Linked DNA regions of Homo sapiens. The protein of the gene in region 2 interacts with the protein of the main gene of each other region in a pairwise test. Each region holds a gene or a part of one and is shown on either strand. Other genes may lie near its edges. The genes, in order: MORC3 and KALRN.

What was found.
Region 1: the proteins of KALRN (region 2) and MORC3 interact in a two-hybrid assay, tested with the Homo sapiens proteins (one large-scale study listed by BioGRID and IntAct).

What each region holds. Positions count from the first base shown.
Region 1 is NC_000021.9:36,326,434-36,330,238, reverse strand, and holds part of MORC3 (MORC family CW-type zinc finger protein 3), read right to left. Parts: intron 332-3,805; exon of another isoform or gene 246-331; intron 1-245.
Region 2 is NC_000003.12:124,031,901-124,036,464, reverse strand, and holds the start of KALRN (kalirin), read right to left. Parts: upstream 3,097-4,564; 5' UTR 2,725-3,096; coding exon 2,652-2,724; intron 1-2,651. UniProt on the Homo sapiens protein: Promotes the exchange of GDP by GTP. Activates specific Rho GTPase family members, thereby inducing various signaling mechanisms that regulate neuronal shape, growth, and plasticity, through their effects on the actin cytoskeleton.

The DNA.
Region 1 (3,805 bases), on a different chromosome or scaffold from region 2:
GGGTGCCTGACTCTTAATTGATTATCTCCTGGATCTGGAAAGAAAAAAAAAAGGGAATGGCCAGGTGCGGTGGCTCAGGACGGGTCTGGTGGCTCACACCTGTAATCCCAGCGCTTTGGGAGGCCAAGGCTGGTGGATCACCCAAGGTCAGCAGTTTGAGACCAGCCTGACCAACATGATAAAACCCCATCTTTACTAAAAATGCAAAATTAGCTGGGCCTGGTGGCTCATGCCTGTAATCTCACCTACTTGGGAGGTTGAGGCAGGAGAGTTGCTTGAACTCAGGAGGCGGAGGTTACAGTGAGCTGAGATCAGGTCATTGCACTCCAATCTGGGCAACAAGAGCGAAACTCCGTCTCAAAAACAAAAACAAAAAAAAACAAAAAAAGAAAAGAAAAAAGGGAAAAGAGGATTCTCTACACAATGTACATTTTTTTCCACAAGAGACAAACTTTGCAAGGCAATTTCAAGATATGACAAGGAAATCTATTTAGAATTATTTTTATTTCTTTCCTTGTTATGTGATGTTACGCCAGAGCAGTATAATGAAGCAGGTCTGACCCCAACTTCCTGTCATGGCCTGAACTAGTCTTTCAGATTAAATGTTAAGAGTGCCCTGGCTGAGAAGGAAGTCCATTAAAATGGTTGGAAGAGCCTTAGAATTTTATTTTTGGTTTATACTACCAAACAAGGAGAAATTAGTCAACTACTATAAACCCTTAGTCTCCTGTACTTCTGACAGACCAACCATAAATTGGGCATTCACATGATTCCCCTCATGTTTGATAATGTGCTATAATGCTCACAAAACCCAAAAAAAACACTGATTCATTGTAAAGCAAGCCTGTCCAACCCTCAGCCCCCATGGGATGCATGTGGCCCAGGACAGCTTTGAATGCAGCCCAACACAAATTTGTAAACTTTCTTTTTTTTTTTTTGTTTTTGAGATGGAGTCTCGCTCTGTTGCCCAGGCTGGAGTGCAATGACATAATCTCGGCTCACTGCAACCTCTGCCTCCCGGGTTCAAGCGATTCTCCTGCCACAGCTTCCCAAGTAGCTGAGATTACAGGCAACTGCCACCACGCCCAGCTAATTTTTTTGTATTTTTGGTAGAGACATGATTTCACCATGCTGGCCACGCTGGTCTCGAACTGCCGACCTCAGGCGATCCGCCCACCTCGGCCTCCCAAAGTGCTGGGATTACAGGCATGAGCCACCCTGCCCGGCCTGTAAACTTTCTTAAAACGTTATGAAGTTTCTTTCGTGATTTTTTTTGTTGTTGTTGTAGTTCATCAGCTATCGTTACAATTTCTTTTTCTTTTTTTTTTTTTTACCTCATCAGCTATCGTTAGTATATTTTATGTGTGTGTGGCCCAAGACAATTCTTCTTCCAATGTGGCCCAAGACAATTCTTCCAATGTGGCCCAGGGAAGCTAAAAGATACAATGTAAAGGATATTACAGACTGGGCCCAGTGGCTCACACCTGTAATCCCAGCACTTTGGGAGGCTGAGGCAAGTGGATCACCAGAGGTCAGGAGTACAAGACCAGCCTCGTTGACATGGTGAAACCCTGTCTCTATTAAAAATACAAAAAATTGGCCAGGCGCGGTGGCTCATGCCTGTAATCCCACCACTTTGGGAAGCCGAGGTGAGTAGGTCAACTGAGGTTAGGAGTTCAAGACCAGCCTGGCCAACATGGCGAAACCTTGTCTCTACTAAAAATACAAAAAATATCCAGGCGTGGTGGTGCGCGCCTGTGTCCCAGCTACTGGGGAGGCTGAAGCGGGAGAATCACTTGAACCCAGTAGGTGGAGACTGCGATGGCGCCACTGCACTCCAGCCTGGGCGACAGAGGGAGCATGAACTAAGGTGTGGTTAAAAAAAAAAAAAAAAAAGGCGGGGGGGGGCTTATTATTATAAATAACAAAAGATGTTCCACTCATAGTTATCAGGAAATACCAAAGATTTCAGGAACTCCAGTGCCAAGAACCAGGACAAAGAACAAATATACATTTTTGATCATATCAAATGTATGTAAATGTGAAATAAAAAATATAGGACAGCTGGGCGTGGTGGCTCACACCTATAATCCCAGGACTTTGGGAGGCCGCGGCAGGTGGATCATTTGACGTCAGGTGTTTGAGACCAGCCTGGCCAACATGGTGAAACCCCGTCTCTACTAAAAATACAAAAATTAGCTAGACCTGGTGGCACACACCTGTAATCCCAGCTACTTGGGTGGCTGAGGCATGGCAATCACTTGAACCCAGGAGGCAGAGGTTGCAGTGAGCCAAGATCATGCCACTGCACTCCAGACTGGGCAACAGAACAAGACTCTGTCTCAGAAAAAAAAAAACAAAAAAGGAGGCCACTGTTTTGGACTAAGCTCCTGCTCTAGGCCTCCAAAAACAGACTAAAAATCAAAATGGAGTCACCCATGCTAAAATTTCAGTCACCAAACTGAAACTAAGTTGTTATCTGACCTTCAGCGAAATCAAGGGAGATAACAGCCAATTTACCGAACAGGTCAGTTTCAGTCATCAACTGGTATGACAGATAATAAGTTCCCTCCATTTTGTTGTTTTACAACAAAAAGTAACCTAATGTCAGTCAGTTATTTATCTATTGTTTTTAACTTTGAAATGACGTATCTGCTTTTTGTTCTTTGTTTCTGCTTTCTTTCGGCCTTTTTCTGTCTACAAAGCCAGCCTCCTCTGTTCAGTTCACTAGAACACTTACTGTATTTTATGGAAGAAGTGTTGCCCAATTCCAGAATAGGAAATAAAGGCCAAGCACGGTGGTTCACTCCTGTAATCCCAGCACTTTGGGAGGCTGAGGCGGGCAGAACACTTGAGGTTAGGAGACGAGCCTGGCCAACATGGCAAAACCCCGTCTCTACCAAAAGCCAAAAAAATTAGCCAGGTGTGGTGGTGAGCGCCTGTAATCCCAGCTACTCAGGAGGCTGTGGCAGGAGAATTGCTTGAACATGGGAGGAAGAGGTTGCAGTGAGCTGAGAGATCTCACCACTACACTCCAGCCTGGGAGTGTCTGTCTCAAAAAAAAAAAAAAAAAAAAAAAAAAAGAAATAAAGCCAATTAATATCTTTAAATTTAAATTTGAGGCCAGGCGCGCTGGCTCACGCCTGCTGTAACCCCCGCACTTTGGGAGGCTGAGGTGGGCGGATCACCTGAGGTCAAGAGTTCAAGACCAGCCTGGGCAACATGGCAAAACCCGTCTCTACTAAAAATACGAAAATTAGCCGGGCGTGGTGGCAGGTGCCTGTAAACCCAGCTACTAGGGAGGCTGAGGCACAAGAATCGCTTAAACCCGGGAAGCAGAGGTTGCAGTGAGCCGAGATCGCACCAATGCACTCCAGCCTAGGCGACAGAGCGAGACTCGGTCTCAAAAAAAAAAAAAAATCTTTAAATTTATAATGTTGTCTTCTGACATACAATAAAATATTCACCTTAAGCAAACAAGGAAATCCTAACGCACACTACAACATGGATGAACCGTGAAGACATTAATGAATAAGGCAGTCACAAGTCAAATATTGTATAATTCCACTGATAGGAGTACAGCAGTCTCCCCTTATTCTCAGAGAATGCATCTCAAGACCCTCAGTGGATTCCTAAAACTGCAGTATACATATGTATGATAAAGTTCAACTTATAAATAAGGCACAGTAAGAAATAAACATTTTATTATTTATTTATATAGAGATGGAGTCTTGCTCTGTTGTCCAGGCTGGAGTGCGGTGGTGTGGCTCACTGCAACTTTCACCTTCAGGTTCAAGCGATTCTC
Region 2 (4,564 bases):
GGCAGACTAGATAAAGAAAATGTGGTACATGTACATCATGGAATACTATGCAGCCATAAAAAAGAATAAGATCATGCCCTTTGCAGCAACATGGATGGAGGTGGAGGCTGTTATCTTAAGCAAACTAACGCAGGAACAAAAAACCAAATACTTCATGTTCTCACTTATAAGTGAGAGTTAAACAATGAAAACACATGGACACAAAGAGAGGAATAACAAACACCGGAGCCTACTTGAGGGTGGAAGGTGGGAGGACAGAGAAAATCAGAAAAAATACCTATCAGGTACTATGCTTATTACCAAGGTGATGAAATAATCTGTATACGAAACCCCTGTGACACACAGTTTATCTATATAACCCATACATGTACCCCTGAACCTAAAATAAAAATTAACAACAAAAAATAAAAATAAAAAGAAGAAGAAGAATCCCCAGCAAGAGCCTAGGCTAGAGACCAGAAGTGTGGTGACAGTCAGTGAGCCAAGCATAGAGGGCCACACAGGGTGGATGTAGTCCTTGACCTACCCCCTCTTGCAACATGTTACAGGTCATCAGTCATTTCCAGCCTCATGCACCAATGACTTAACCTTTCTCTGATACTAAGTGCACATCAGACTTAGCTCAGCCACTGGGCTGCCCAAGGAGGAGGGAGAATATCCCCAACATAGGAATCCCACAGGAGACTGACCCCAGTCTGCTATTTATTCTGTGATTTGAGCCAGGGTTAGATAATGTGTGCCACACCTTGTGTTTTGAAAGGCCCTGGGAAAAGTAACACATTGGACTATTATTGGCCATTAACACTGTGTGAATTTATTATCAGAAATAAGCAAGCCTCCAGGAACTGAGCTCTGCTACGGGTGCCTGGAACAGAAAATGAACAGGACCTAGTGTTTGGATGATAGGAAAGGGGAAAGAGGAGTGGGCACCAAAAGGTAAAAGTGGAGTCCAGAAAGGGAAGGTGGGAAGGCTCACACTTCAAGATTTTTCCCTCAGAGCTAAGAAAATGCAGACTTTTGCCCCAGTTGGGAGGCAAGGGGGGTCAGCTGGGTTTTTGATTGACTGGTCAATTTGTTTCTAGTCCCAGTTATGAATTCCCATATCTCCCCTCCTCTGCCTCATAATGAGTATTTCTGAATATCACTTAGCCCCCAGAACCACCTTTTCCCTAGATTCCACCTCTTTAGAATCCATGCTTTTGGGTGCTGGGCTGTGTGTGTATGAGAGAGAGAGAGAGAAGAAAGAAAATAGAATCCATGTCTCGGAAGAGGAAGGAGGGAAGGAAGGAGGAAGAAAGAAAAGGAAAGAAGGCTTAGACCTGGGAAGCAGAATAGAATGACAGGGCTCCCTCTGATTTCCCCAGACCCTGGCACCAGCTCCTGTCCTCCAGTTTTTTCCTCTGCACATCAACTAGAGAATGAACATATGAGCCAATCAAGTCTTGACTTCCAAAGCCACAAGTCTCCCCCGCAAAGCACCCCACCCCCTTCCCTAGAGATGACCTCCAGGGCAAGGTAACAGGGTTAGGAAACAGATGGATGTGCAGAGACCCTCCAGAGCTAACCTGACCCCTGACCCCCACCAGTTCATGTCCTCTAATCCAACTTTCCAGAAGGGAGAGCAGATGCATGGGGCCCCGGTAACTTACTGGACTCCTTGGGACAAAGATTCCAGACAAAACTGTTTCAGACATGTGGGGAGATGGGGAGCTACACACAGAAGCTGGTGGAAGCCACAGGTACAGGGAGACGGGGAATCCCTGGCCATCAGAGAAACAGGGCCACAGGTGGTGGAAGATAAGGGTGGTCAGTGCCGGTTCTAGGGAGGGACTGTGTAGCCAGGGAGCAGGAGGAGCAATGGACCCGGGACTTGGACGATGGCAGGGGCGCAAAGAGCTAGAAAGACATCTCAGGGCTCTACACCTCACAGCAAGCAGAGACTTAGTGGGTGTGTATGAGAGGGACGCTAACTCACACTTCCAGGAATGAGTAATTCTTATGAATAGCTCCTCCGTTCCCAGAACTGAAGAGGAGGACAAGGGGGAGGTCCGAGGCGCCCACCGCCCTCCCAGCTGGGTCTGCCTCTCAAGTCAGAGGGACCAGCTCCCCACACGCACCAGGCGAGACCGATGTCTTCCGCCCCACTCCTGTCAGTCTGCAGCCGGCGCGGCTCCGGGTCCCCGCCGCCCCTCTGTGCACATCAGGGCCCCGGGCCCCCGACGGCGAGGAGGGGTGCCGACCCAGGGCGGCCGCCGGGAGCCCCGCTGACAGGCACAGGGGAGGGGGAGCCAAGGGAGGGGCCGGGACGCCGGTAGCCGGAGCGGCGCGCTGCAAAGTGAGCCAACACCGCCCATCCCCGCGCTCTGGGAGAAGGCGGTCCGAGGGGACCGCCTCCCACCTCCCCAACACAGACTCCCGCAACTGGGGTGAAGGCGGAGGGGCGCGGAGTTCCCAGCCCCCACGCCCTCCCCAGACGCAGCCAGCACTGCCATAACAACCAGAATCTCGGCAACTCCAGCCCCGACGCCGAGGGGGCACTGCCCCCCAACACGCACGCGGCAGCAACAGCCCTCCTTCCCCAAACTTGTCCGAGACGCCGCGTCCGAGGCAGTAGCCTTCAGCCCTGGCCCCCCGCGCCCTGCCCGGCTTACCTGTCCGGAAAAAGGCGTCCACGTCCGAGTCTGCTGCTCCTCCTTCCTCCGCTGCTCCCTCAGGGGGGTTCATGACTGTGGGAGGGCGTCCGCGGGCAGCCGGGAGCCGAAGAAGCCTGGGGCCGAGGGCTGCTCGGCGCCCGGTGGGCGGAGGGCGCGGGGCGCAGCTGCTGCGGCCGCAGAGCTGGCGGCCGCGGAGCTTCGAGGGCGGGCGTTGGGCGGCGGGGCTGGGGCAGAGGACGCTGAGCCTCCCTCAGGCGGAGGCGCGCGGCGGGCTGGGGGTGCCTGCCGCCAGCTCCCCCATGGTACCCCTTCCCCAGGGCGCTGGCCGCCTGCTGTCTGGCTGGGGCCGGGGCCCGGGGCCGGGGTGCGGGCTGCCTGGGCGCCCGCTGTCCCCCAGCAGCGGCAGCTGGCTCTCCTGCTCGCCCGTCTGCCTGTCTCTATTGTTCAGCCCTGCTCCGCTCTCTCCTCTTTATTTTTCCTCCTCCCTCCCACCCTCCCTGTCTCCCTACCTCCTCCCTCCCTCGCTCACTCGCTCACTCGCTACCTCCCTCCTTCGCTCGCTCGCTCTCTAGCTCCCCCTCTGGCTCCCGCCGCCGCCGCCGCCGCAGCAGCCGCCTCCCCAGCTCCTCCCCCGGCTCCCGCTCCCTCAGTCCCGGCCAACAATGACCCCGGGAGCGCCGAGCTGAATTGAAGCTCCGGCCGGGGCCGAGGGCTCGCTGCGGGCCCCCGGCGGCGCCTACGCCCCCAGTCCCAGCGGCCCCGCGCCGGCCTCCCGGGGAGCGGAGCCCGAGTCCCGAGCTATTGTTCGAGGCTGTGCTAGGCCGGCTTCCTGAGCTCCGCAGGAAAAGCCCGGGCCAGGGAGGGGGCGGGGCCGCCGGGCGAGCCCGGGGCTGCAGGGCACACGCCAGGCTTGTCCAGGGGGCTCTGCGGCCCGGGCGCTGCGCGCTCAGCTTCTCCGCTCGCGCCGCCGGTGCTCCTCCCGGCCCCGCGGCCACCTCCTCCGTCCACTCCACTCCCAGGTGTGTGAGGGGACCACCAGGCTGCCCGCCCGCCTTCTCTGGATCTTCAGATCGGTCTCCAAGCTGGACTGACCTGTCCCTAGAGGCCGGCCTTTCTTCCCCTCCTTCCTGACGAGCTCTCTTCTGTCTCCCTGCCCTCCTGAGCCTCTCACATTTTCCTCACCAGCTCGCCACAGTTTCTCTCCTTTTTATCTTTTCTCGTCCTTTTCCCCTTTTCAGCGCCCCTTTAAACATCTCCGCCTGTCTCTGTGACTCTTTGTCCAGTTTAATGCTCCTGTGATGTCTCCCTGCCTATCTCTCCCTCCCTCCGTCACTCTCTTGTCCCTCGTTTGTCTCTGTCCTGCCTCCGTACTTGGCCCGTATCTCCGCGCTCCTCTTGGACAGCTGTCAAAACTCTCTAATCCCTGGGGCCTTCTCGGTTTTGTTCTCCCTCATGTGAATGGAGAGATCCAGTTGGCCAGGAGGAAGGAGGTGTTACAGCAAGCTGAATTTCAATTAAAGTGGGGAGAGGGGCTGGGGAGGAATGGGGATGGCTGCAAAAAAGAAAACAGATGCTGTATGGGGTAATTAATGCGGTGATTGTATTGTGCCCATCAGTTTTTAAGCAATAATTAAACAATAATTAGCCAGTAGTGTGTTTATGGTTCTAGTGACTACAGAGCCCACCAAACAGAGGGTCTTTAAGACCTGAGTACTTAATAAGGTCTGCTGAGCGCTGTTCGCTGTTGCCTCATCCAGACAGATGGAGAAGTGGTGGCCTGACCTAATGTGTTAAAACACGCCTAATAGGAAAACCAGGTACTGGTCTGAAGTTAATGACTGCAACCCATCAGACAGAATCTCCTGGATCTGTTTGTCTCTAGTAACCTGTTTGGTTCCACCTCTCTCTGG